Regions from separate parts of the Homo sapiens genome. Here regions 2 and 3 are each linked to region 1. The links come from fine-mapping of genetic effects on gene expression. A gene starts in region 1. Each other region holds a variant in brackets. All regions are shown on one strand. Distances are from middle to middle.

Region 1 (8,348 bases):
GCACTCCAGCCTGGCGGACAAGAGCGAGACTTCTCAAAGAAAAAAAAATTGCCTGGGGTGGTGGCGCACACTTGTAATCACAGCTACTTAGGAGGCTGAAGCGGGAGGATCACTTGAACCCGGGAGGTGGAGGTTGCAGGAAGCCAAGATCATCCTACCGCACTCCAGCCTGGGCACTCCAGCCTGGGCAACAGAGATTCATCTCAAAAAATAAAAATAAAATAACAAAATCACTTGAGGGTAGGGTATGACAGAGTATAGTAATTCACATACACCTATACACATTTAATGACCAGTCATGGTTCAAGTCCTCAGGAGGGGCTTATAAACTAGATTTATATTTTTTTTTCAGAAGTACTTGAACACTAGATTCTAACAGCCACCTCACAACTAAATTGGCTGCCAATCAGCACCTACCTTTATATTAACTTCTCTGAGGAGTTATCTTTCAGTCATTAATGTCTCTACACTTTATATCACTAATCATTAATGTTCATAATTAGTATTAACACATTATTAATGTTCACAATCATTAATATTTTATGTTCAATTACTGTCCTAGAAAAAAACATTTCCAAGAAATTCTAAAGAATCAAAAACTCAAGTAGCAGCCAGATCAGCAGGCTTGCTTACTGCATTAAAATTTTAAAAAGAGGCCGGGCACAGGGGCTCACTCCTGTAACAGCACTTTGGAAGACCAAGGCGGGCGGATCAGGAGGTCAAGAGATCGAGACAATCCTGGCCAACAGGGTGAAACCCTGTCTCTACTAAAAATACAAAAAATTAGCTGGGCGTGGTGGCAGGCACCTGTACTCCCAGCTACTTGGGAGGCTGAGGGAGGAGAATCGCTTGAACCCGGGAGGTGGAGGTTGCAGTGAGCTGAGATCGCGCCATTGTACTCCAGCCTGGGCAAAAAGATCGAAACTCCGTCTCAAAAAAAAAAAAATTTAAGAAGATACCCAACAGGGTAAACTAAATCATGTGTCAGACTCAGAAGATACTGGCCTTGGGCATGCTTATTCCATTCAACATTTGAATGTAGCTACCTTACACTTAAAATACTTTTGTTACTTTCTTGATGTAACTACATTTACTATTCCAATTACCTATAATAAAACATACATTTATCAAAATAAAGGATTGGGAAAAAAAAGAAATCCCAAGTCCATGAAATTCAAGTAAAACTTCCAACCTTCAATACCGAAGATGAAACAGGGAAGTATCAAATCTAAATGTTTTAAAACTCTCCCAAAATGTAAAATATATAAGTAAAATTAATAAGACCTAAACATCACCAGTTTTCTTCAACTTATTTCCCACAGCCCAAGTTTTAGCCAGTTACTATATCAGCACCTCAAGTAACACTATTAGGTGTCTGGCCACATAAACACTGCAAAATGATTTCCTGGAAATTCAAGATGTTATAAATATGTTTTCCTAGAGGCAGACAAGTAGAAGTTATCAAGGCTTCATTTTACTTTATAAGGTAAAATTCAAGTTAACATGATAGTCACAGACGTAATTACCTCGTTTTTACAAACGACTAATTTGTTTCTCCCCTTCCACCTCTGATCTTACTCATTTTAATTATTCACTCTGCCCAGACCTTTTCTCTACATACATACACACGCCCCTCTAAACAAGAGTTTACACTGTCCTGCGATGAAAGCATAAAACAAAAGGCTGACTTGCAGATGAAGATATACCTCAGTAGTTTGATCTACAAGGACTAAATATTGAATCCAAAAAATCGTGGGTGTGGCTCGATTTTTTTTTTTTTTAGAGGGGGGCCTAAGGAGGCCAGTCGGGGCGGCTGCCTGGTCTCTGCCCTCCCCCTCTGCTTTCGCTTTGTGCTCACAATGCAGCTCCAGTAAAGCGCTTCCCTCTCCCCGCAGCCGCCGCCATGTTAGACGCTCTCTCCATGTGCCCCGAGTCCCAGCCATCCTCTCCAGTCTCCCCAGGACCCAGCCCCCAACGAATCTAAATCGTGGCAGTCCCCCGCCCCTTCACAGTCCCCTAGGAACAAAAAGTCGCTGCAGAAAATCATCTCGCGATTGAGCTGAGCCTGAGGCTCGGGGGGACACCTAAACAATTGAAACAAAGAGGGAAACGCAGGGGAGCCCATCGCATGGGCGCGGGGGTAGCAAATCGAAGACCCATTCAAAATGGGCCTGCCGGAAAGGCAGTTCTACCTTAAGATTCTAAACACACTTCTCTCCTACGGAAGAAGAGGGGACGCTCGACAGGTCTCGAGTGCATGGTAACCGAGCGGACAGACCCCAAGGCTGCAGGACGCAGGCCGCCCCAACTCCACGAGGCGGTCGGTTGAACCCGGAGCCCCCCGCGCAGGGACCTCTTCATTTTGGGCCCTCGTCAGAGAAATCGGGCCTCAGAGACGGAAAGAAGGGCACCATACAGTGAAGTCCTGACGACAGGCCCCCACCCTCACATGTCCCACTCCTAAAGGCCAAAAAGCCGGACCCACAGCGGAAGAGTAATAAAGAGGCCTGGGGTACAGTGCCGCGTCCGAGTCAGGTGACAAGTGCCTCTTCCAAGAGCCCGTTTTCTGGGCACGAAGCTCCCGCTGAACGTGGAGACGGGGCGTGTGGGCCAGGGGGTGGGAGGAGGGGACCTAGTAACGCTCCCGAGACGAAAAGAAGCGAAGGCTCCAGCGACCAGGGTCGGAGGGGCCGCAGAGCCCGGCCGCAGCCACCCCTCCCTTCCCCGCCAACTCCTGGCACCTTTTTCTTCTCCAGGTTCCGAAGTTTCTTGTCGATCACCCCGAGAATCTGCTTCATGGCCTCGGTCTGGACAGCGCCGGTGCCGGTTGCGGGGTGCTGAGAAGCCGGCGCGGCGGCCCCGGCTCCCGCGGCCGCCTCACTCCCGGAGGAACCCGACGGCGGTGGCGGTCCGGACGACTTGCTGCCGCTCCCGCTGTGGCTGGTGGCCGAGGGCATCTTCAGACCGCAAGGAGAGAGAAGAAAAAGCGGGAGGAAGGACAAGAGCGGCCAGTCAGGAGACGGACGGGGCGAGACGCGGGACAAAACGCGCAGCGAGCGGTAGCCTACGCGAGCGGGTGGGGGAGGGGGCGCGGCGCGCCTCGAGGGCAGGAAGAGTGCGCGGGCGCGCGCGCGACCCGCCAGCGGGGCGCCCGGCTGGGCCTCGCACCGCCCCCCGACCCGCCCCTCCCCCGCGGAGCCGCCGGCTCGGCCTACCAGCCCGGGGGCTCCGAGGCTCGCGCCGGAGGCGGGGCATCGCCGCGCCGGCCGCCAACGGCCACTGCAACGGTCCCTACCGGGGAGGGCCGGCTTTTGCCGGCTTCCGGAGAAGGGAGGAAAGAGAGAGGTCGGGGCTTGGGGGCAGAGAAGGGCATGGGAAATGACCGGGGTGGGGTGGGGGGACTTGGGGGCAAGCCCCTCGGAAGCTCCAGCGGGTCCGGAGATAAAGGACACCCGGGCGCAGCGGCCCTCTTCCCCTGCAGCGGCTCGGTCCCGGGTGGCGCTCACCGTGCGCGCGCGGAGGCCGCTGGAAATCACGAGTGGGCAGCTGAGGGGGCAAGGGTGGTGGTCCCTTCCGGGCAGTGTCGCGCGCTCCGTGGGCGCAGGCCGCTTCGCCCTGTCCCGCTGCACCGAGAGCCGCTCCTAGTGAGGCGAGAGCCGGGAGCGGGAGGGACTTAGCCAGCCAGCAGCCCTCTGGGTCGCGAGGGGCGGGAGAAGCGGAGAGCGGGGGCCTTCGCGGCCGCTCGGGCTGCCCGGCGCGAACGCCTGCCCGGAAGAGGCCGCCCGCTAGCTTCTCCGCCGTCCCCCGGCCCCGGCGCTGTGGGGCGCCTCCTGGACGCAGGTGGGGATGGCCCCGGCAAGGCCGAAGGAAAGGCCCCTTGAGTTTTGAGAGCAATCGACGCTAGGGTCCTTCAGGCGAAATCGTTTGACGCCCAAACGGGGACAATAGGTGTCAAGCAGCTGGCTCTGGAGCTGGCAACTGCCCCTTGAAGAGCCCTTATTTGGGGTGGGGGTGGGGGTTGGGGGGCAAAGGTTTCTGCAAGTAAGGGGTGCGTGGGGTGGGTGGTGCGATCCCAGCTTCTAGAATTCCTTCTGTATGCAGAGCGAGCAAACTCCATACCCCAAAACGTCTTTTGAAAAAAAGACAACTCGCCGCTTCCCCACCAAACAATCACCCAGTAACCTAGGAGTTCTCTGTAGAACGTGTCGGACACGGTCATGGTTGGTGGCTTTTTAAATCCTAAAGCTCTGGCCTCACAAAGAGTCTTCAGCTACCCTATGATGTTATACATCCAGTAGGCCTGAGTATTACGAATTATTAGACTTTTGTTTCCTTTTTTTTTAGGTTTACCTAACACTGTAAAGAGAACGTTCAATGAAATACAAAGAAAAAGATGATTTTTTTGCTCCAAGAGAATTATTCCAGCCTTGGGGTGGAGTGGGTGTGGACAGTGAGCAGAAAAACAAGAAACCAAGTTCTGGGAGGAAATAAAATGAATATAATCAGTGGAAAATTCAGCAACGCAATATTGTGTGACAACAGTAAATGACCAATTTATAATTTAAATTCTATGAAAAAGAGATTTAGAAGAGAGTTCTACCAAACCCACTGTTCCCTAGGGAATAAAATGAGTAACGCTGACTGGCAACAGTGCATCCTGAGGGAGCCTGGAGAAACAACAGCAGCCTCCGACCTCAAGATATCCTGGTTAGCTGCAAAGTCTGTTATATATTCATTCAAATATTTATTAAGCACCTTACTGTGTGCTGGGAACTCTTAAGTGCTAGGGATTATGAACAAAACATATTTACATGGAGCTTACAATCTAAGTAAGGGGAAGACAAGTAAATACATGTCAGATAGTGAAATGGTAGAGAAAAGAAAAAACGGTGGTCAGGGAAAGCCTTACTGACATTTGAGCTAGTACTGAAGGAAGTGAGGAAGAAGGCTAAGCAGCTACCTTGGAGGAGGAATTTTCCAGGTAGAGGAAACACCAAGTACTAAGATCTGAGACGGAGTGTGCTTTTTGGGTTCAAGGAACAGCACGGAAACCATAGTGGCAAGAGCAGAGAGTAGGAGATGAGGTCAAACATATTAAAGGGGGCTGGTCTTGTAGGGCCTGAAAGACCACGGTAAGGACTTTGGCTTTTGCTGCATTAGATGGGGAGTCATAGTTTCAAAATTTAGTCACCTAAACCATCCTTAGCACTACGCTGAGCAATTATGCCAGGCCTAGAGGCTAGAAACGGAGATGATAATCCTTTAGCTCCTTGCAACTCAAAGTTTATTCAGCCCAACCTCTCTCACTACCACTATCACTACTATCTTGGACTGCATAGCAGACTTAACTGAATCTACATTTTAACAAGATCTTCAGGAGATTTGTGTGTACATTAAAGTTTCAGAAATCACTGTTTTGTTCCTCGGAATTGACCAATGTCTAAAGTTTTATTGGGAGACATCCAATCCATCTATGCACATCCATTCTATGACTGCCTCTCTGCCATAGCACAGCAGAGTTGAGTACTTGGGTGTGCAACAGACAGTAGGGTGTGCAAAACCTAGAATACTATCTCTTCTTTTACAAAAAAAGTGTTTGCCAATCCCTGGTTTAAAACTACAAAGGGGCCAGGTGAAGGGGCTCATGCCTGTAATTCCAACACTTTGGGAAGCCAAGGCTGGCAGATCACTTGAGGTCAGGAGTTCGAGACCAGCCTGGCCAATATGGCAAATCCTGTCTCTACTAAAAATACAAAAAAATTTGCTGGGTGTGGTGGCGCATGCCTGTAATTACAGCTGCTCAGGAGGTTGAGGCACGAGAACCCGGGAGGCAGAGGCTGCAGTGAGCCAAGATTGTGCCACTGCATTCCAGCCTAAGCAACAGAGTGAGACTGTCTCAAAAAACAAAAAACAACTGCAAATGGTACACATCCATCACAGTTCAACAGAGGGCCCTGTTCGTAGTAGTCACTCAGTAGATTCATGCTGATGCCATATCTCAAGTGTTGCTGATCACTGTACCACAAGAGAACTCAGGAATATCTCAGTCAATTAAATGCTTTAGACAAGTAGATATGCATCACATCTGCTTAAATTCATTGGCCAAAAAGAGTCACATGACCCTATCCAACTATAAGGGAGTCAAGAGATGGTATTCTATCAGATGCCGGGTAGGAAGCAGATGAGCCAGAAATATTTGGTGAATATATGAAGCTGTCACGCTTTCACTTCCTATATCATCCCAATCCCATTTCATTGGTGTTCTGACATTCTGCGTTTGTCTGTTCAGGTCAGCAAGTCCAGAAAGACCAATAAATTTAAGGCAAAGCTGTGTCCTAAAGCTCACTTCCTGCCCAGATCAATGCCAAGGTCTCAGTCATTCAAATTTGTGTATTTCCTACTTGACTGAAGCTATGTTTATGTGAATTTTAAATACTCATTTTTTAAACCCTTTTTTCTAGTACAGAGCTATGCAGTAACTTGCAGTCATTGCATCATTGAAGAAATAAAGGGTTCCCAGAAAACACACTGGAGGAGCAGAATATGTTTATAAATGGTTTATAAATTTAAAAACCTTGGTATACTTTAATATATGCCAATATTAAATATATTAACATAAAGCAAATACAACAATATGCAAAATAATATATTTCAATAACAAATCTTTCAAGCTGACATTTGCTTGTTCAATTCATTAGACCACAGCACTTTGAAGTTTCCACAAAGTGAATAATTAAACTATTTATCCTGATCATTTTAGCAAAATAATTCAACTGCTTGAACTTGAGTCACCCAATAAGCTAATGCTTATTTGTAGCAAAAGAGAGGAATCTTCATCTGAATTATATGAACTGCCTCTTTGTTTCAGGTTGACAGAAACCTGACCAAAGTGTGAACTACACTGTTCACATAGCTAAGGCTCTTAAAGTTTCTTAAATTTGTTTTTCCATCATTTTACTACAAGTCAGGAGTAGACATTTCTATCATAATTTTTCCAGTACAGTCTTTTTTATTGTAATTCAATCAATGATTGTCTATGTGTCCATGAACCACCACTAAACTCTAAGCTTTTCAAAGAAAAAGAGCAGTCGTTTTGTTTTTCCATCTCTGGATCCTCATAAGCAATAGCATGCCTGGCACAACTATTTTGTCACTAAGTATTGCCTACTGTATTAACATATCAGTACGGTTTTAATATTATTATTACTATTGGTCCATACTGTCTCTGAATTCTTACATTTTGGTCATCAGCTGAGATAACATCCTTTTCCGCTTATATTTTCCTATGTCCACCTTTTCTTGCGTGTAATATTATGCTTAGAAACAGGACTTCATGTTTTGTAGAGGTACAATATGTTCAGAATAGTTATTTCAGATTTCACGAAATACTGTTGTTTGTTATTGAACACTCTTAGAAGCTACACACTTTACTCAATGTAAAAGTAAACACAGTGGTATGTGCTTGAAATCCCAGCTACTCGGGAGGCTGAAATGAGAGCATTAGTTGAGCCCAGTAGTTCGAGGATGCAATATCATGTCACTACACTCCAGCGTGGACAACAGAGTAAAACCCAGCATCTAAAAAATAAAAATTTTATTTTTATTTTATTTTATTTATTTATTTTTTTGAGATGGAGTATCATTCTGTCGCCCAGGCTGGAGTGCAGTGGCAAGATCTCAGCTCATTGCAATCTCTACCTCCTGGGTTCAAGTGGTTCTCCTGCCTCAGCCTCCCGAGTAGCTGGGATTACAGGTGCATGCCATCATGCCCGACTAATTTTTGTATTTTTGGTAGAGACAGGATTTCACCATGTTGGCCAGGCTGGCCTCAAATTCCTGAGTTCAGGCAACCCACCTGCCTTGGCCTCCCAAAGAGCTGGGATTACAGGCCTGAGCCACTGCGCCCAGCCTAAAAATAAAAATGTTTTAAAAGCAAAAACACCTTGGCCACAGGTACTAAAATCTTTCATATAGTTACTTATATGAATTGTATGTTGTCTTAACATCATGTTTCTATTTCAGTGGTTCCCAACCTGTGGTGATTTTGTCCCTCGGGGACACTTGATTTAAAGGTCTCCTAAGCACCAAATCACTAGCAATGTCTAGAAGTATTTAGTTGTCACAACTTGAGGGGAAGATGTTAATTGCATCCAGTTTGTAGAGGCCAAAGATGCTTCTAAACATCTTACAATGCACAAAACAACACACAATTATTCAGACCAAAACATCAATAATGCCGAGTTTGGGAAATGCTGTTCTATTTTATGAGATAAAAGATGTAGTCACTGGCCAGGCACGGTGGCTCATGCTTGTAATTCCAGCACTTTGGGAGGCCAAGGCAGACGGAT
Region 2 (8,000 bases), 270 kb before region 1:
AGAACCAACCAACCCTGAAACTACCCTACCCAGCTCTTCTTACAGGAGACAATAACGCCCTGGCTGTTTAAGCCACTTTTAGTTGTTGGCTTTGCATCCGGGTGCATCCCAATGATACATCACAGGCATCTTTCTGGATAAAGCAATATTGTCTCTAATAGGTTTTTATTTACTTTGAGACAGAAAAGAAGTAACCTTTAAAGTCTATCCTTATTCTCTTGCTTAAACCACTGTTTTTATTTTTTCCAATTGGTTGGTGAATATTTCTCCTTTTTCCTGTTGAACTTCAATTGAATATGGCACACTCTCATGAGTTGTCTATAAACATTTAAGAAGCTTTGGCTTCTGTGGAATAAGAAATACGCAGCTGTTCATTCTCCCTTGCAATGACTTGACCCAAAGTAAAACATCTTTTTTTGTTTGTTTGTTTGTTTTTGAGATGGAGTTTTGCTCTTGTTGCCCAGGCTGGAGTGCAATGGTGAGATCTCAGCTCACTGCAACCTCCGCCTCCTGGGTTCAAGCGATTCTCCCACCTCAGCCTCCCGAGTAGCTGGGATTACAGGCATGCGCCACCATGCCCAGCTAATTTTGTATTTTTAGTAGAGACAGGGTTTCTCCATGTTGGTCAGGCTGGTCTTGAACTCCCGACCTCAGGTGATCCACCCACCTCAGCCTCCCAAAGTGCTGGGATTACAGGCGTGAGCCACCGCACTTGGCCAGTAAAACATCTTTAAATGGCGCAAAGTAAAACTTTGTGGAAGATTTTGGTGCACATTGGCTGAAAGACAGATACAAATGGTATTGGGGAAGATTGGCAAGCTTGAATGTGCTGCTTGCTAACCAGAAGTAAGGCATTCTCAGTAGTGAGCTGGGATTGCCCAGGGGAGATAAAGTTAGTCTGGTATGTTCTAGAGAGTTCCACGGACGTCTAATGTGGACACACGACACCCATATGCCTGCCTGTGGGGTAAGTCCTTCGTGAAGGTTAGGTGAGAGAATTCAAGAGGCAGCCAGCCCACCCAATGGCACCTTGAGCTTTCAAGTTCTACTTTGCTTTGGAGAAGAAATTCTACTGTGGTGAGGTATATCCATCCAAGTGACTTTTATCATAAATCTCTGTACACCTGTGGAGGCATTGAAATGGTCTACAGCTGAAATGGCCTTTTCAGCTCAGATCATCCAGGGATAAGGTTTTAATCATCAACCAGACTGCTTCGGCCACTGAGTACATTTTTAGGACCCTGCCTTCTGACTTCAATTCCCCCAGGAAATACAAAGCATTCAAATGTTAGCCCAAGGGTAACATCCTTAAGAAATAAAATCTGCTCTTTTCTCAAAACCTGAGTGCCTTCCAAAGCCAGAATTAAATTTCTATTTGGGTCATCTGTGCACATATTTTGGGGAGACATAAATCATATGCAGCTCTGTTAGAGATCTCAGGGAGTGAGCTGTGTGTTAAGAATAAAAATAAAATTAAGTAACGTGTGCTAATAGATTAGTATGTTTCAAGTACTGAACTAAATGCTTTATACTCACTAGCTCATTTTAATACACCTGCTCTCTAAAAAGTGGCCAGGCACGGTGGTCACGCCTGTAATCCCAGGACTTTGGAAGGCCAAGGTGGGTGGATCACCTGAGGTCAGGAGTTCGAGGCCAGGCACAGTGTCTCACACCTGTAATCCTAGCCCTTTGGGAGGCCGAGGTGGGTGGATCACCTAAGGTCAGGAGTTCGAGACCAGCCTGGCCAACATGGTGAAACCCATCTCTATTAAAAATACAAAAATTAGCTGGGCGTGGTGGTGCATGCCTGTAGTCCAACCTACTTGGGAGGCTGAGGCAGGAGAATCACTTGAACCTGGGAGGCAGAGGTTGCAGTGAGCAGAGATCACGCCACTGAACTCTAGCCTGGGTGCCAAAGTGAGACTTCATATAAAATAAAATAAATATAAAATAAAATAGTCCTGGTGTCTCATTTTCCAGCTGATAAAACAGAGGCTGGGAGGGGTTAAATAACTTACCACACAGTGTGAAGAGTGACAGTGGGAAGCTCACGCTCAGGTCTGGCTGACTCCACAGCCCGCCTTGGTAATGACTTCAGAGGTGACAGACAGCACTGCATATACTTGGTGTATGTTGGCTGTTCCCTTTTTGTCCCAAACCTGTCCTTGGCTTGGAGCTATCCCACACCTAGGTTTCTCCTCCCCTGCTGCCTAGATACTGGCCAGTGCAGGCATCAGCTGGTCCTGGTGGGACCTGCCCCTTTATGATAAAGCCAAAAGAGATCCCAGTAAGCTTTGGGGTCTCTTCTGACTTTATCACAAAGGGGGAGGTCTCTGTGACCTTCTTCACCTGGCTGTATAATGACCATCTGAAGTCGGTGGGGTTGTGGGGAAGAAGGCCTGAGCCAAGGCTTCTTGTGTGTCAGATCCAGGAAGCATTTTATTTCATTTCATTGCCTTTCCCTGGGTCATCTGTTGTAGAGTCTGAGGTGGTGTCTACTCCAGCGCTGTTCCTATTACTCTGTGGGGCTGACAAGATGTTATCCCCCAGCTCCAGGGGCCTTGGCCATCATCCTTGCTAAGACAGTGCCAGTCTCTGGCTCCAGGATTTCAGTCTGGAAAGAGGTGCCTTTGACATTACAGCTGACTCAGGCTAATAACTGGGCAGTTCCTTTGAAAGGCATGCAAGCTTCCTTCCTTAGCCCTGAGATGACACTTCTTGGTATTTCTCCATCAAAACATCTTGTTTCTCCAAACAGGGGGGTTTATAGATTACTTAGACTAGTGGTTAAGCTGCCCAAGGATGACCTGAGAGCAACATGCTGGATCCTTATCACATTATGGGTCACCTCCCAACTCAGAACATTGAGTTCTGACTCCCCAGCTGGCATTAAATGGAAAATAATCCTCTGGACTCTTGGACTCTGTACTTACTGGCTGATTCACAGTCTAGTAAAACCACCTTCTTTCAACTGCCTAGAAATCTAAGTTGGAATTTTTATTATGACGTCATTGTGTATTTAGTAGCTGAGACTCAGGTCCATCCTGGCCCTGCCACGAGCCAACTGAGTGTCCTTAGACCAGTCCCTTGGTCCCTCAGACCCCAAGCTTCCTCCTTGGGAAAGTGTTGAGAATGACTTTTCTAGATGGTCTCTGGGTTGCCTTTAAAATAAGTCATTCCTTGGAATCATGTCTTTTGCAGTAACATGGGTGGAGCTGGAGGCCATTATCCTAACTGAACTCAGAAGCAGAAAATCAAATATCACATGTTCTCATAAATGGGAGCTAAACAATGGGTATGCATGGACATAAAGATGGAAAAAATAGACACTAGGAACCAAAAAACGTGGAGCCAGGCACAGTGACTCATGCCTATAAATCCCAGCACTTTGGGAGTCTGAGGCAGATGGATCACCTGAGGTCAGGAGTTTGAGACTGGCCTGGCCAATGTGGCGAAAGCTTGTCTCTACTAAAAATGCAAAAAAATTAGCTGGGCATGGTGGCACATGCGTGTAGTCCCAGCTACTTGGGAGGCTGAGGCAGGAGAATTACTTGAACCCAGGAGCTGGAGGTTGCAGTGAGCCAAGATTGTGCCACTGTACTTCATCCAGCCTGGGTGACAGAGCGAGGCTATGTCTCAAAAAAGAGGTAGGGGAGGGGGACGTGGGGAGGGGAGGAGTGGGGGTGAGGGTTGAAAAATTACATATTAGGTAAAGTGTTCAATATTTGAATGATAGGTATGCTAGAAGCCCAATCCCCACCATTATGTGTGTAATACCCATGCAACAAACATGCACATGTATCCCCAAATCTGAAATTTTTTTAAAAAGCCGTTATTAATTTTTTTTTTTTTTTTTT[G/TTTG]AGACAGGATTTTGCTCTGTTGCCTGGGCTGGAATGTGGTGACAACATCTTGGTGCACTGCAACCTCCGCCTCCCAGGCTCAAGTGATCCTCCCACCTCATCCTCTCAAGTAGCTGGGACTACAGGCACCTGACTAATTTTTGTATTTTTTTGTGGAGATGGAGTCTTGTCATGTTACCTAGGCTGGTCTTGAACTCCTATACTGAAGCGATCCTCCTGCTTCAGCCTCCCAGACTGCTGGGATTATAGGTGTAAGACACCATGCCTGGCCCATTCTTAATTTCGTTGACCAAGTGTTTCTCTTACTGTTTTCGCACTCTCATTGCCAGTGCCCCCTTATTGAGCAGTCTGTGGGCAGAGCGCAATCAAGGGAAAAATACAAGATGCGGGAGAGGAGACAAACCCCCAACTCCCTTGCCCAGGAAGATTATAGTCTCCAGGGTAGAAAGCCTGTAAACACTGTACTAATGATTGTGATGGAGATCTGAACAGAGGGCAGTGGAATCAGAGGGCAAGATTGCCTAAGCCAGGCTCATCAGGCATATCTAGAATATAAACAGATGGCACAGGTGACATGTTTAACTTACACAAGAGAGGTCATGTCTTTGTTAAACATCCAAAAACCTATGGCATGAAGTACCAAGGGTTCTTGCATGTGTCTCTGGTTGGAATTGTTCTAGTTCTGTTGGTTTTGTAGTCAGTTGCCTATGAGCAGAGCAGAATCAAACAGGCTTTGTGCCTCTACCGCCCTGAGTACCTCAGGCACAGTAGTTTTGAAGCAGACACTGATGGGGCTGGAGTGTTTCGTCCAGATCTTTCTGTTCTTTCCCATGTGCCTCCCGGGCTTCCCCAGTGAGGTCATTAGTGTGTCCAGGGTAAGAACTGTATCACAAGCTTCCCACATATCTTCTGTGCTACCACTGTCTTGGTCACACACAGGTCCTTTGTATACCCTTAATGTAGTCAATTAGGACAGGCTCAGCCAAGCTTTATTTATTCTTGGAAACTCTGTGTGTGCAGTTGTTATTGGTGCGGTTTTTATCACATTCAAGTACACACTGTATTTTTTTTTAAAAACATATTCTGGGGCTCATGGATTATCTTAAAGCTGGGCTTCAGCAGCACCAGTGGCAACAGCAACTTGGCCTTGGTATTTTCACTGCTCAGCCTTGTAGTTGATGATGAAATATTTGCGACAAACACGTTTGCCACTCGGTCACTGACAAGCCTGTGGGTTTTGGGGTAGCAAAAGAGCAGAGTGCAGGAAATGATCCAGTGAGTATCTTTTACCTCCCAGAGGAGCAGAAGGCTCAGCCCATCCACTGTGATTATAGTCAGAGCTGGGCTGGATCTGAAGTTGAGTTTAAAATGAAATCATTGCTGAAAGGCGAGTGCTAACCTACTGTGAGGAGTTCTTGTCTATCCAGAGAGCCCCAGTTTGCTGATGGTTGAAAGAAAGGATGAAAGGGAGCCATTTGCGACTTTTGCAGTGTCCGTATGATCCGTGCCACTGTGATGGCCAGAATCTGGGACTGACCACAAAACACAGCCTCACGTTGGGTGCTGTCAGTGAGGGCTGTCTCCCCTCCTCCTTGCCCAGGGACGGGGTGTCTGGAATGTTAGTTTCCTTGCTGCAGTGTGAGTGAAGCAGAGGAACATCGGCATTTTTAGCCTTGTTCTAGCAACCCTGGCCACTTGATCCCAAAGTTAGTTCTTGTCAAGTGTTGGATAAAACAAAGCAACATATTTTTTCTTTTGTTCTTAACATTTTAACTGCAAACATTTAATCAGCAGTTTGACGATGACTGGTTAGAAATTGCCGCATAAGCTCGCCTTGAAGAAGTTATGCTAAGCCACCTCAGGTTTCTCCACTGTGAGGGGTAGATGCCTGGCACCTGGCTGGCACAGGTGTTGGGAATTCTGTGTGTCAGAAGCACTGAGAGCCTGCCATGAAAGGCAGCTGGAAACCTGGGGGGTGGCTGCTCGTGTCATTTCTGATAGGAAAAGGGAAATTGAATTTAAGGAGACCTGCGCATTTCAGAACTATACTTACCACAGTAAAGCCTCCGGGCTACGGCCAGCCAGAATGTGCCCTTCTCTCCCTGCCCATGTCTGCTCAGCGCCGAGGGTGAGCTATGATTGGGGCAGGGGAGGAGGGATGGAGGAGACAGGCACTGGATGCCAGGAGAGGAGAATGGGAACCCAGAACACATCCCTGGAATCAATCTAATTGTTTCCATTCCTCCTCATGAATGATTGGGGCCTGTATTCCCCAGAGCTTTTTAGCTGCCCAATACAGCTTTCCTTTGTCTCAAAAACCTCCCAAAGATGGGCTTCTAAACCTCGGAAAGCCAAGCCCCAGACCCTCAGAGCCCCATGTCAGGATGGCCCCGGACACAGGTTATTTCAAATAGACTCATTTCTCCCCATCAGCTGAAACCAGTCAGCCTGAACTGGGCGTGTTTATTCAGTGAAACCCAGGAACCTCAGTGCCCTGGTTTTAATCAGGAGACTTGCTCTGTGGTAATTTGGGGCTCCTCGACCAAGGGTCTGGTCCCAGTTAGTTTCCAAATGCCAGGCGTGCTTGTTTCCACAGACAGTGTCTGCGCTCACGTGGCCTCATGCAAATGCACTGTCCAGAAGGCAGGCTCGCGCGAGTGCAGGCCTCTTTTTAATATGGAATTTTGAGCCCTTCTGGCGAGGACTTTTCCAGTCTTTGTTTTTTGAAAAGAGGGTAAGATAATCTGCAGCGGCCTTTCTGGGGAAGTCATTTGGAGTGTTGGGTTGGAGCTTGGCAACATGGAAACCATTAGGGCCATCACAGGGGCTGACTGTACCTTGTAAGTGCGGCATCACCCTCAGCCTCTCAGAACAGGGTTAGCCTCATGGACTCTCAGCCTGTGCTGTCACACAGGGCCCCCCACTCAGAAGGGCTCCACACTTGGCTTAATGATCAGCTATCACTGCCTTGAAATTCTTAATTTTTGAACAAGGAGCCTCCCATTTTCATTTTGATCTGGACCCTGAAAATTATCTAGCCAGTCCTTCTAAGAGGATCCAGGCACCAGCATCGGATACCAGGGGGAGGTTGAGCTCTGCCACTCACCAGTCATGAGCCCTTGGTCTGAGGGGACACTGACCTCCTAGCCTCAGTGTCCTCCTCTCAAAAGAGAGCCATCAGCACCTCTCCCTTGCAGCTGTGTGCAGAGAAGAAAAGATCATGCCCCTGTGGCACCTAGCACAGGTGTGTCACATGGTAGGTCCTTAAAACACACACATCTATTTGACTTTTCTAGTCATTCCTTTCTTCATGCAACAAATACTATTGAACATGGACTATGTGCCAAGCGCTGGCTCAGCCTTGGAGTACAGATACCCTAGTAAGAAAAACAGACCTGGTCCCGCCCTCATCGAGGTTAGAGTCTAATCTCTGACCCACTTAGTGAACAGGTTGCAGAAGCCTCTTCTCTGTTTCAGCATATCCGAGAAGAACAGCCTCAAGTCTGGTGAGACCAGCTGCTCTGGAAGATCTCTTGGGCATGCGACATGGCCATCTATCCAGCCTTCCACATGACCCTCGAGGGTTTTGGGGTGCTGGATATCAGGGAATTAAAGCCACCTGCATGGGAGTATCTCAGGTAGTAGTTTCCCTCATCACTCTGTGACCAGCATTAGCCCCTCTCCTTTGCTGTTGTAAATTTGGGGACCTCCAGCCCCCTCGGTTTCCAGAGCATGTTTATCCATTCACCACATAACAGGCAGCACCCACACCCTAGGACCGTGTGGGAGCCAGGTTGTGCCCTCCAACCTGCCCCACCTTGAAGGAGAACTCGGCCTTAACGTCAGCAGTGCTGGGGCAAGTCCCTTGCTGAGGACGGTGGGGAGGGCTTTTACACAGAGAATCTATGATTATAAGGGTGGTAAGAAATACTAGTAATAATAGTTGGACATAGTGAGTGTGTGTTCATCATCAGGCACTGAGTGCTTTACACAGATCCACTTGTTTCTCCGTAGAGTTGCAAAGTCCTATCATAACCTCTATTTTACAGATGAAGAAACTGAGGCAGGTGCGCCCTCCCAGTGGCATCTCTCCCACTTTCGTGGCATGGCTGATATCACCGTCTACATGAAATGTGTATTGTA
Region 3 (8,000 bases), 120 kb before region 1:
GTGCTTTGTCTTGGCTGTTGGCCACAATAGGGAAGAATGGCTGGCAAATCCACGGATTATCTTTTTGTTTACACTTCAGTCTCCAATGCTGATGGTTGAAATAAAGGCTTTTCCTGCAATCAGAAGGACTGATATATAGAAGCATGTCTGTAAGCTTGCCTTCCAGCCCTGTAATATAAGAATTGTGAAATCTAAAAATATTTGGGGGGAATTGGGCATTTATGTTTAAGGGAACTCTTATAAACAGAGGGATAATTCATGAATAGATTGTTGTTTCTTCCTAGACTACACAAGATCCCCCCATAGAATCTCAGCTTCCTACTCTAATGAGTCAACACTAGGCTCTTGAAAATTATACACCATTCTTTTCTGGGCAGAAACATGACTTGGTCCATAACTGAAAACCTGGGTACACTATAGTAAGTTACTGATGTTCATCCATACTTTTTGTCACTCAGCAAAACTTTCTACTAATAATTTTGTTTGTTTGTTTGTTTTCTTGAGACACGGTCTCTCTTTGTCTCCCAGGCTGCAGGGGAGTGGTGCGATCATAGCTTACTGTAGCCTCCAGCTCTTGGGCTCAACCTGTCTTCCTGCCTCAGCCTCCCAAGTAGCTGGGACTACAGGCGTGTGCCAGCAGGCCTGGCTTCAGTGAACATTTATTGAGGACCTGCCATGTCAGGCCCCAGGCTGGTCATATTTCAGAGAATACAGAGATGAGGAAGTCATTGTTCCCGTGCTTAGAAGGAACAGTCTGGTTAGGAAGACAACATGCATTCATGGCTATTGCTGTAAAGGAAAGTTTTCAGTGATCTCAGAGCAGGAAGATATTTCTTTCTCTTTTTTTTTTTTTTTTTTTTTTTGAGACGGAGTCTCACTCTGTCACCCTGGCTGGAGTGCAGTGGCATGATCTCGGCTCATTGCGATCTCTGCCTCCCAGGTTTAAGCGATACTTATGCCTCAGCCTCCTGAGTAGCCGGAACTACAGGTGAGTACCACCACGCCCGGCTAACTTTTGTATTTTTAGTAGAGACGGGGTTTCACCATATTGGGCAGGCTGGTCTCGAACTCCTGACCTTGTGATCCACCTGCCTCAGCCTACCAAAGTGCTGGGATTACAGGCGTGAGCCACCGCACCCAGCCCCCCTTTTTTTTGGGGGGGTGGGGAGAGAGAATCTGGGAAGGCTTCTGAAGCAGGTGGCATTGGAATGGAGTCTTGAAGGATAAATAGGATCTAGACAAGCAGGGGTGAGAGCTGTTCGTTCTCATGCATAGATGGGAGCAGGCAGGGTGGGCCTGAGGTCCATGAGTGCTGGTGGTGTGTCCTGGTAACAGGGGTGAGTCACGGCAGGAGATAGGGTGAGGTGAGGTTCTGGGAGTCCTTGAGGGCCAGAGATAGTGAGGCTTTACTGGCCTGTGGCCCTCCCCTTCATACAGATTGGTATGCTCAGTGGACCAGTTAAGTGGTTCAAACCCAGGAATATTGGAAATGACAGAACCAGAACATCAGAATACCTTCCCAAAGGAAAGACCTTTAAGATCACTTCTGATTACAGAAAATCCCTAACTTATGATGGTGCAACTTACAATTTTTCAGCTTTACAGTGGTGTGAAAGCGATATGCATTTAGTAGAAACTACTTCGAGTACCCACACAACAATTCTGTTTCACTTTCATACAGTATTCAGTAAGTTACACTGATGTTCAACATTATTATAAAACAGGTTTTGGCTTATATAATCTTGCCTAACTGTAGGCTAATGTAGGTGTTCTGAGCATGTTTAAGGTAGGCTATTCAGTAGGTGAGGTGTATTCAATGCGTTTTCGCTTAGGATATTTTCAACTTACTATGGGTTTATTGGTATGTAACCCCATCCTAAGTCAAGGAGCATTTATATTTGTTTGCCACTTTTTAAAATAAAAGCATTCTTTGCCCTCAAGGAGAGAAGAAACTTTTAGAACTCTGGAGATGACCCGAGCTTTTGGAGACCTGAGATAGGGGTTCCGAGGGCAGCCCAGGCTGACTCCCTGGAGGTGGCTTACTTCCTAGCCAAGGAGAGAGAATGGACATCTTTTCCCTGGCGGGAGCACTTAGCTGCATGTCAAGGGGAGAGACCACAGTGACCGCACAGGCGGGACGCTCCAAGAGCCCCGAGGGAGTTGGGGTGGCTGGAGGCCTGGCCGCCTGCCCCTGGCTGCCTGCCCGCTCCCTGGCTTAATTTGTAAGGAAGGACAAGAGTGGCATCGGGAAGGGCTGGGAACAGGCAGGAGCCGGGAGGCTGACTTTTGGGCTGTCATCAGAGAGAACAGCATGAGTGAGGGACAGGGCTCCAGGGCTGCCTTGTTCCTGTGATGGAGCAGGGAAAGAGCTCCGTCCATTCTGGGCAGAGCAGGTGGGTGTCCCACGAAGTCATGAAGCCACAGGCTGCCATCCGGGCCCCTCGGTGGCGGGGAGGTCTGTTGGACGGCGAAGTGGTCTCCTGAGGGGGCTCCAACACGGAGCCTTGCCAGAGCTGGCAGAGGACAGAAACGCGTCCCCGCCCCCCAGCTGAATCTGAGCCGCTCGCCGAGGGCAGGGGCGGGCGCGGCCTGAGCCGCAGTCAGGGCCCAGCACAGGCTGTGCACATGGCGTCCCCTGGTGGCACAGAGCGGGCCTCATGAGCGGCGCCCCGGGAGTTTGCAGCTCTAAGCCTGCCGCCGCCTTTCCCTGCTTTTGTGGGCTCTTAGTGATACTCGGACCCGCTAGGACCATTCCTCCCTGTGGGACTTGAAGCCGCTACTCTTTTTCTTTCTTTTTTTTTTTTTTTTTTTTTTTTTTGAGACGGAGTCTCGCCCTGTCGCCCAGGCTGGAGGGCAGTGGCGCGATCTCAGCTCACTGCAAGCTCCGCCTCCCGGGTTCACGCCATTCTCCTGCCTCAGCCTCCAGAGTAGCTGGGACTACAGGCGCCCGCCACCAAGCCCGGCTTATTTTTTGTATTTTTTAACAGAGACTGTGTTAGCCGGGATGATCTCGATCTCCTGACCTCGTGATCCACCCACCTTGGCCGCCCAAAGTGCTGAGGTTACAGGCGTGAGCCACCGAGCCCGGCCGAGGCCACTACTCTTTTCTGAGCACCAAACTGGGGGCAACCTGGCCTGGCACACGAAGTGGTGTCAGCCCACCTCAGTCTAGGTGCCAGATGAGGAAGGAGTGGTCATTAATGTTGTACAACAGCCTAATATGCATCATCCCATTTGGCCTCATGACAGCCTCCATAAGGAGGTATCACACGTGTGCTACAGATGGAGAACCAGACTCGAGTGTGCTTGTCGGAGGGGATGGTGACCTGACCCTGCTGGTGGCAGCCCTGGGTTTGGACCTGGGTCTGTGAGACTCTTAGCTGTGCAGCCTCTCCCCTCTGCATAGAAGAACACTTGGCGACCCTGACTGAACTCTTTGGAGGGGGAAAGGTCCCCAATTCCACACACTGGGGAACTGCTCCTTCCCTGGGCCACCTGAGGGCCCTCAGGTTCTGCTAATGGCCCATGATGGAAATTCCTTCTGTGCATTGCAGGTAGTCGGGGTCTCTGTGAGCAGAAAGAGCAGGTCCCTTGCAAGGGGTGATCAGCCTTGGTTGCCACTTGTGAGCATGTGTGTGCTTAAGGGGTCCCCTGCTGCCCTTCAGGGAGCACTCTCTCTAGGCCTGACCCTCTGCTGCCCAGCAGGGAGCCCCCCACCCTAGGACTGACCCTCTCTCTGCTGCCCCACAAGAAGCACCCTCCCAGGCCTGACCCTCTCTCTGCTGCCCTGCAGGGACCCCACCCCAGGCCTGACCCTCTCTCTGCTGCCCCACAGGCCCTTCATGCTGCTGCCGCCCCTCATGGAGTGGATGCGCGTGGCCATCACCTACGCAGAGCACCGCCGCAGCCTCACCGTGGACAGCGGCGACATCCGGCAGGCAGCCCGGCTGCTGCTGCCTGGTCTGGACTGTGAACCTCGGCAGCTCAAGTATGAACCAGGGAGGAGGGAGGGCCCCGGCATCCATGACCTGCCCCCAGCGGCTCCCCTCTGCTCGCTTCTTCCCCAGATGGCTGGGCGGGGGTCAGAGAGCAGGGGCTGCAGCACATTTGAGCTGTTCTAAGGGTGTCCTCTGCAAAGGCCAAGCCTGAGTATGGGAACAGATCTATTGTAGACTTTGGCTGCTGTCTGGAAACGTCTCCTGCAGCTGCTGGTCTGCTACACAGAGGAGACACACATTGGGACTGGGGCAGGAGAGCCCACACATCTAACTCTTTGGGATACTTGGGGACTGAGGGGCAGAAGTGGGCCCGTTCTTTCCTCTGTTCCTGTAATTGACACCACATGGAGCCCTTCCTGGGTGCAGGTGCTGTGAGCCCTTCCTCTTTATGTGCATTATCTTAGTCCTCATGACAAGTGCAGGGAAGAGGCAATCATGCCCATCTTACAGATGAAGAAGCTGAGGGTCAGAGGGGAACAGTAGCTTGCCCACAGATACTCAGCTAGCACTTTACCGTGCCCAGATTTGAACCCAGGTCCATACGGCCTCCAAGCCTGTGCTCCTAATTTCCTTCCCTAAATGCCTCTCACAGTAGACTTGTTTGCTGAGGAGCTTTTCTAGAGAAGCGTCCCTGGCCATCCTAGGCCCATGAGAGCCTTTTATCTATCTATCTATCTATCTATCTATCTATCTATCTATCTATCTATATACACACACACACACACATATATATATATATATATATATATTTTTTTTTTTTTTTTTTTTTTTTTGAGACAGAGTTTCACTCTGTTGCCCAGGCTGGAGTGCAATGGTGTGATCTCGGCTCTCTGAAATCTCTGCCTCCTGGGTTCAAGCGATTCTCCTGCCTCAGCCTCCCAAGTAACTGGAATTACAGGCACGCACCACCACGTCTGGGTA[G/A]TTTTGTATTTTTAGTAGAGACTGGGTTTCATCATGTTGGTCAGGCTGGTCTCAAATTCCTGACCCCAGGTGATCCACCCACCTTGGCCTCCCAAAGTGCTGGGATTACAGGCGTGAGCCACTGCTCCTGGCCTTATATCTTTTTTTTAACCCTCTGCCAAAACCCAGGTTATGGCCTCCTCTGTCTTCATACGGAAGGCCCAAACCCCATTCTAGGACATGAATTTTCTACACTTTGGCCCAACCAAGGCTCCAGACCAAAGCTGCCAACTGGACGTCTGTGATGCGCCCCCTATAACACAGGCATTATCTGTGACTTTCCTTGTAGGTTGCGTTGATTGCAAATGGCAGTCTATGCTACTCTCTACCATCTCTTTGGTACTTCTGAGCCTCACCAGGAAGCCTTAAAGAGAGAGAATGTAGAGCTAAATACTAGAACCTGGCCATGGTGACCGTTTATAGGCTGAGTGCAGCCTGCTCAACACAAACAGTATACAGCCAAGTGCTGAGGCATGAGTCTGGGTGGGAGCTGCTTCCTGCTTGGGGCAGACCCATAACAGATTGTTTTACATGAGTCTTTGTTTTCTGCCAGTTGAAGCAACAAGGGCTCAGAACACTTACTTACTTACTTACTTATTGATTGATTGATTGAGACAGAGTCTTGCTCTATTGTCCAGGCTGGAGTACAGTGGCACAATCTCGGCTCACTGCAACCTCTGCCTCCAGGGTTCAATTTATTCTCCTGCCTCAGACTCCTGATTAGTAGGGATACAGGCACATGCTACCACGCCTGGCTAATTTTTGTATTTTGAGTAGAGACAGGGTTTCACCATGTTGGCCAGGCTGGTCTTGAACTCCTGACCTCAAGTGATTCACCTGCCTTGTCCTCCCAAAGTGCTGGGATTACAGGTGTGAGCCACTGAACCTACCTCCCAAGCAATTTTTTAATGTACTTATAGAAAAGCAGAAATGTGTGCTCTTCATATGACAGAACATGATGGGGACAGTAATTGCTGATCTGATCATAACTCCCTGGTGCTTCCCACCCATCCTCATCCTCACTCTACACGTAAAGCTCACACATGTGTGTCACATCATTGAAAGTTGCTGTCTGCATACAGTCACACGCACCTTTGGGTCTCTTCTGGGCAGACCCGAACACTGTTTCAGTTCCTTCCGGAGGCTGGATGCCCGAGCAGCTACTGAAAAATTCAACCAGGACCTGGGTTTCCGCATGCTCAACTGTGGGAGGACGGACCTCATCAACCAAGCCATCGAGGCCTTGGGTCCGGATGGGGTTAACACCATGGATGACCAGGTACGTCCTGAGAGCTCCACAAAGACAGGCACGAGGACCAGAGTTGGGAATTCTCAGCTCCCAGCATTGGCGGCCCTCTGTCCTAACCCTGAGATTTGCTCAGCTCTGTACTTCGAAAAGGCGGGCTACCTCCCTGAATCCTGCCCTGCCTGGTCATGTGGAATGTCAGCTTGGAGACTTCTAGTATCCCTTGGAAGAACTTTGTCATGTGGCTTCCGCTTCCCTGGCTGGACAGCTGGCCACTGTTTCAGGTGGTGCAAGGCTAGGAACGAGTCTGGGAGAGTGAGCTTCATCTCCAGCTAGGGACACGATCGCTAACCCTGTAGTACAGCCTATTGTGTGCCAACTACTTGCCAGGGCATGGAAACCCTTGTCCTCATGGAGATACCATTTTAGTGCAGGAGACAGATAAGAAGAAACACAGACATGTAAAATGTAGAGGATGTTAAAGTGCTGAGGACTAAAATGAAGCATGAAAATGGGTAGGAAATGTGGGAGGTGATGTAGTTTTAGATAGGCTTTAACTTGAGTTTCGCATCTGTTTTGTTTTTTACTTTTGCTGTGAACAGCTACCATTTATATAGCATTTACTATGTTCGATGCATTGTTCTAAGTGCTTCACATAGATTAACTCACTTCCTCTTGACAGCAGCCCTGTGATGTAGCACTATTATTTTCCCCATTGTATAGATGAGGAAATTGAGGGACAGAGAGGTTGCTTTACCTAAGGTCACACCACTAGTAAGGAGCAGAGCTGGGTGGAGAATCTGAGCAGCTGGACCCAGCCTCTCAACCACTATGGAATATCCTGTGTGTTTATTTGACACTGTACTGAGAGCACTTACAGTGTGCGGAAGGGCACTGTGGGGTTTGGAAGGCCACACAGAGCATGGGGAGTTAGATGACAGTGGCGAGTTAAGGCAGTGTTCTCAGATGAGGTGACGGCACAATGCAGCCTGTGATGAAACTCCAGGCAGACCGTGAGGCCAGGGTGGACCCTGACAGATGGGATGGGCTGCAAGGGGAAGCTTCCTGCTGGAAGCGGTTGAGCCGAGCCTGGGGGAGGGCAGGATGGGGACGGAGCAGAGAGGAGTCAGGAAGGGATTCCAGGGAAAGGGACATAAGGAGTGTGGGGTGGGGCAGTCAGGGCGTGGACCCAGGCCAGGGGTTGGGGAAGGACCACAGGCCCAGCACTGGACTTCCAGAGGGCAGTGGCAGGTGACAGGCTGCTGTGGGATCTCGTGGGGGCCTCTCCGTCCACACAGGTTCCCGGGCTTTGTGGGAGCTTTTGTCCCAGTGGAGTCTTCCTTCTTGAACAGCACAGTGTGGAAGCCCGTGGACTTTAGCTTCAGATAGACCTAGGATTTAGTGGCCATGTAAGAGCTGTAGCATCTTGAACAAGTTACTCTGCCTCCCTGAGGCACTTCAGTTTCCTCCCCTCTAAGATGGGGGATGGTAGCACCTGACACATAGGGTTGGGGGAAGTCTGCATCCAGCACATAGTCAGCACTCACTAAATGTTCATTCCGGTTTTTATTGCCAATATGATGATTATTGTAGTCGTATTGCTGTTGATATGATGATGATGCCTGATATCTGCGAGCCGGCCTGGTTTTATTTGGCCTCTTTATATGTCTGGAGTGCGTGGGGACAGGGACAAGGGAAAAAGCAGTGTCTCCTCACCGGGCCCGTCATTTGGTTTAAACTCCAAATTGTATACAGATGTGTGGAGAAAAAAGTAAGTCAAGTCTGTCCGCAGGGAG

Alleles and levels. Positions count from the first base shown, and alleles are read on the strand shown. Sizes are in standard deviations (SD) of each study's normalised expression. Not every link is listed here.
In carriers of allele G in region 2, the expression in activated naive CD4 T cells of the gene that starts at base 3,647 in region 1 tends to be higher than with TTTG alone (moderate effect, 0.68 SD a copy in Schmiedel 2018).

What was found. PIP is the estimated chance that this variant, and not a neighbour inherited with it, causes the effect.
Region 2: its variant is fine-mapped to the expression of CAPRIN1 in activated naive CD4 T cells (Schmiedel 2018, PIP 0.95).
Region 3: its variant is fine-mapped to the expression of CAPRIN1 in whole blood (INTERVAL, PIP 0.91).

What each region holds. Positions count from the first base shown.
Region 1 is chr11:34,047,030-34,055,377 of GRCh38, reverse strand. It overlaps CAPRIN1 (cell cycle associated protein 1), which reads right to left and starts at 3,647. Exons shown (of 19, transcript NM_005898.5): 1 at 3,507-3,647; 2 at 2,742-2,957. The coding sequence starts at 2,957. It overlaps LOC101929918 (a long non-coding RNA gene), which reads left to right and starts at 2,051. Exons shown (of 3, transcript XR_931177.3): 1 at 2,051-3,059; 2 at 4,345-4,707. RefSeq lists enhancers at 1,774-2,053, 2,084-2,153, 2,224-2,293, 2,364-2,433 and silencers at 3,044-3,343, 3,384-3,933, 3,793-3,992.
Region 2 is chr11:34,313,619-34,321,618 of GRCh38, reverse strand. All of the region lies in intron 1 of ABTB2 (ankyrin repeat and BTB domain containing 2), which reads left to right. Among named protein-coding and RNA genes, the nearest start is that of ABTB2, 40 kb to the left of the region's middle. The variant G/TTTG (reference allele first, on the strand shown) is at 3,858.
Region 3 is chr11:34,169,143-34,177,142 of GRCh38, reverse strand. ABTB2 (ankyrin repeat and BTB domain containing 2) reads left to right here. Exons shown (of 17, transcript NM_145804.3): 4 at 3,836-3,988; 5 at 6,072-6,237. Among named protein-coding and RNA genes, the nearest start is that of NAT10, 68 kb to the right of the region's middle. RefSeq lists enhancers at 1,717-2,637, 2,638-3,560. The variant G/A (reference allele first, on the strand shown) is at 4,920.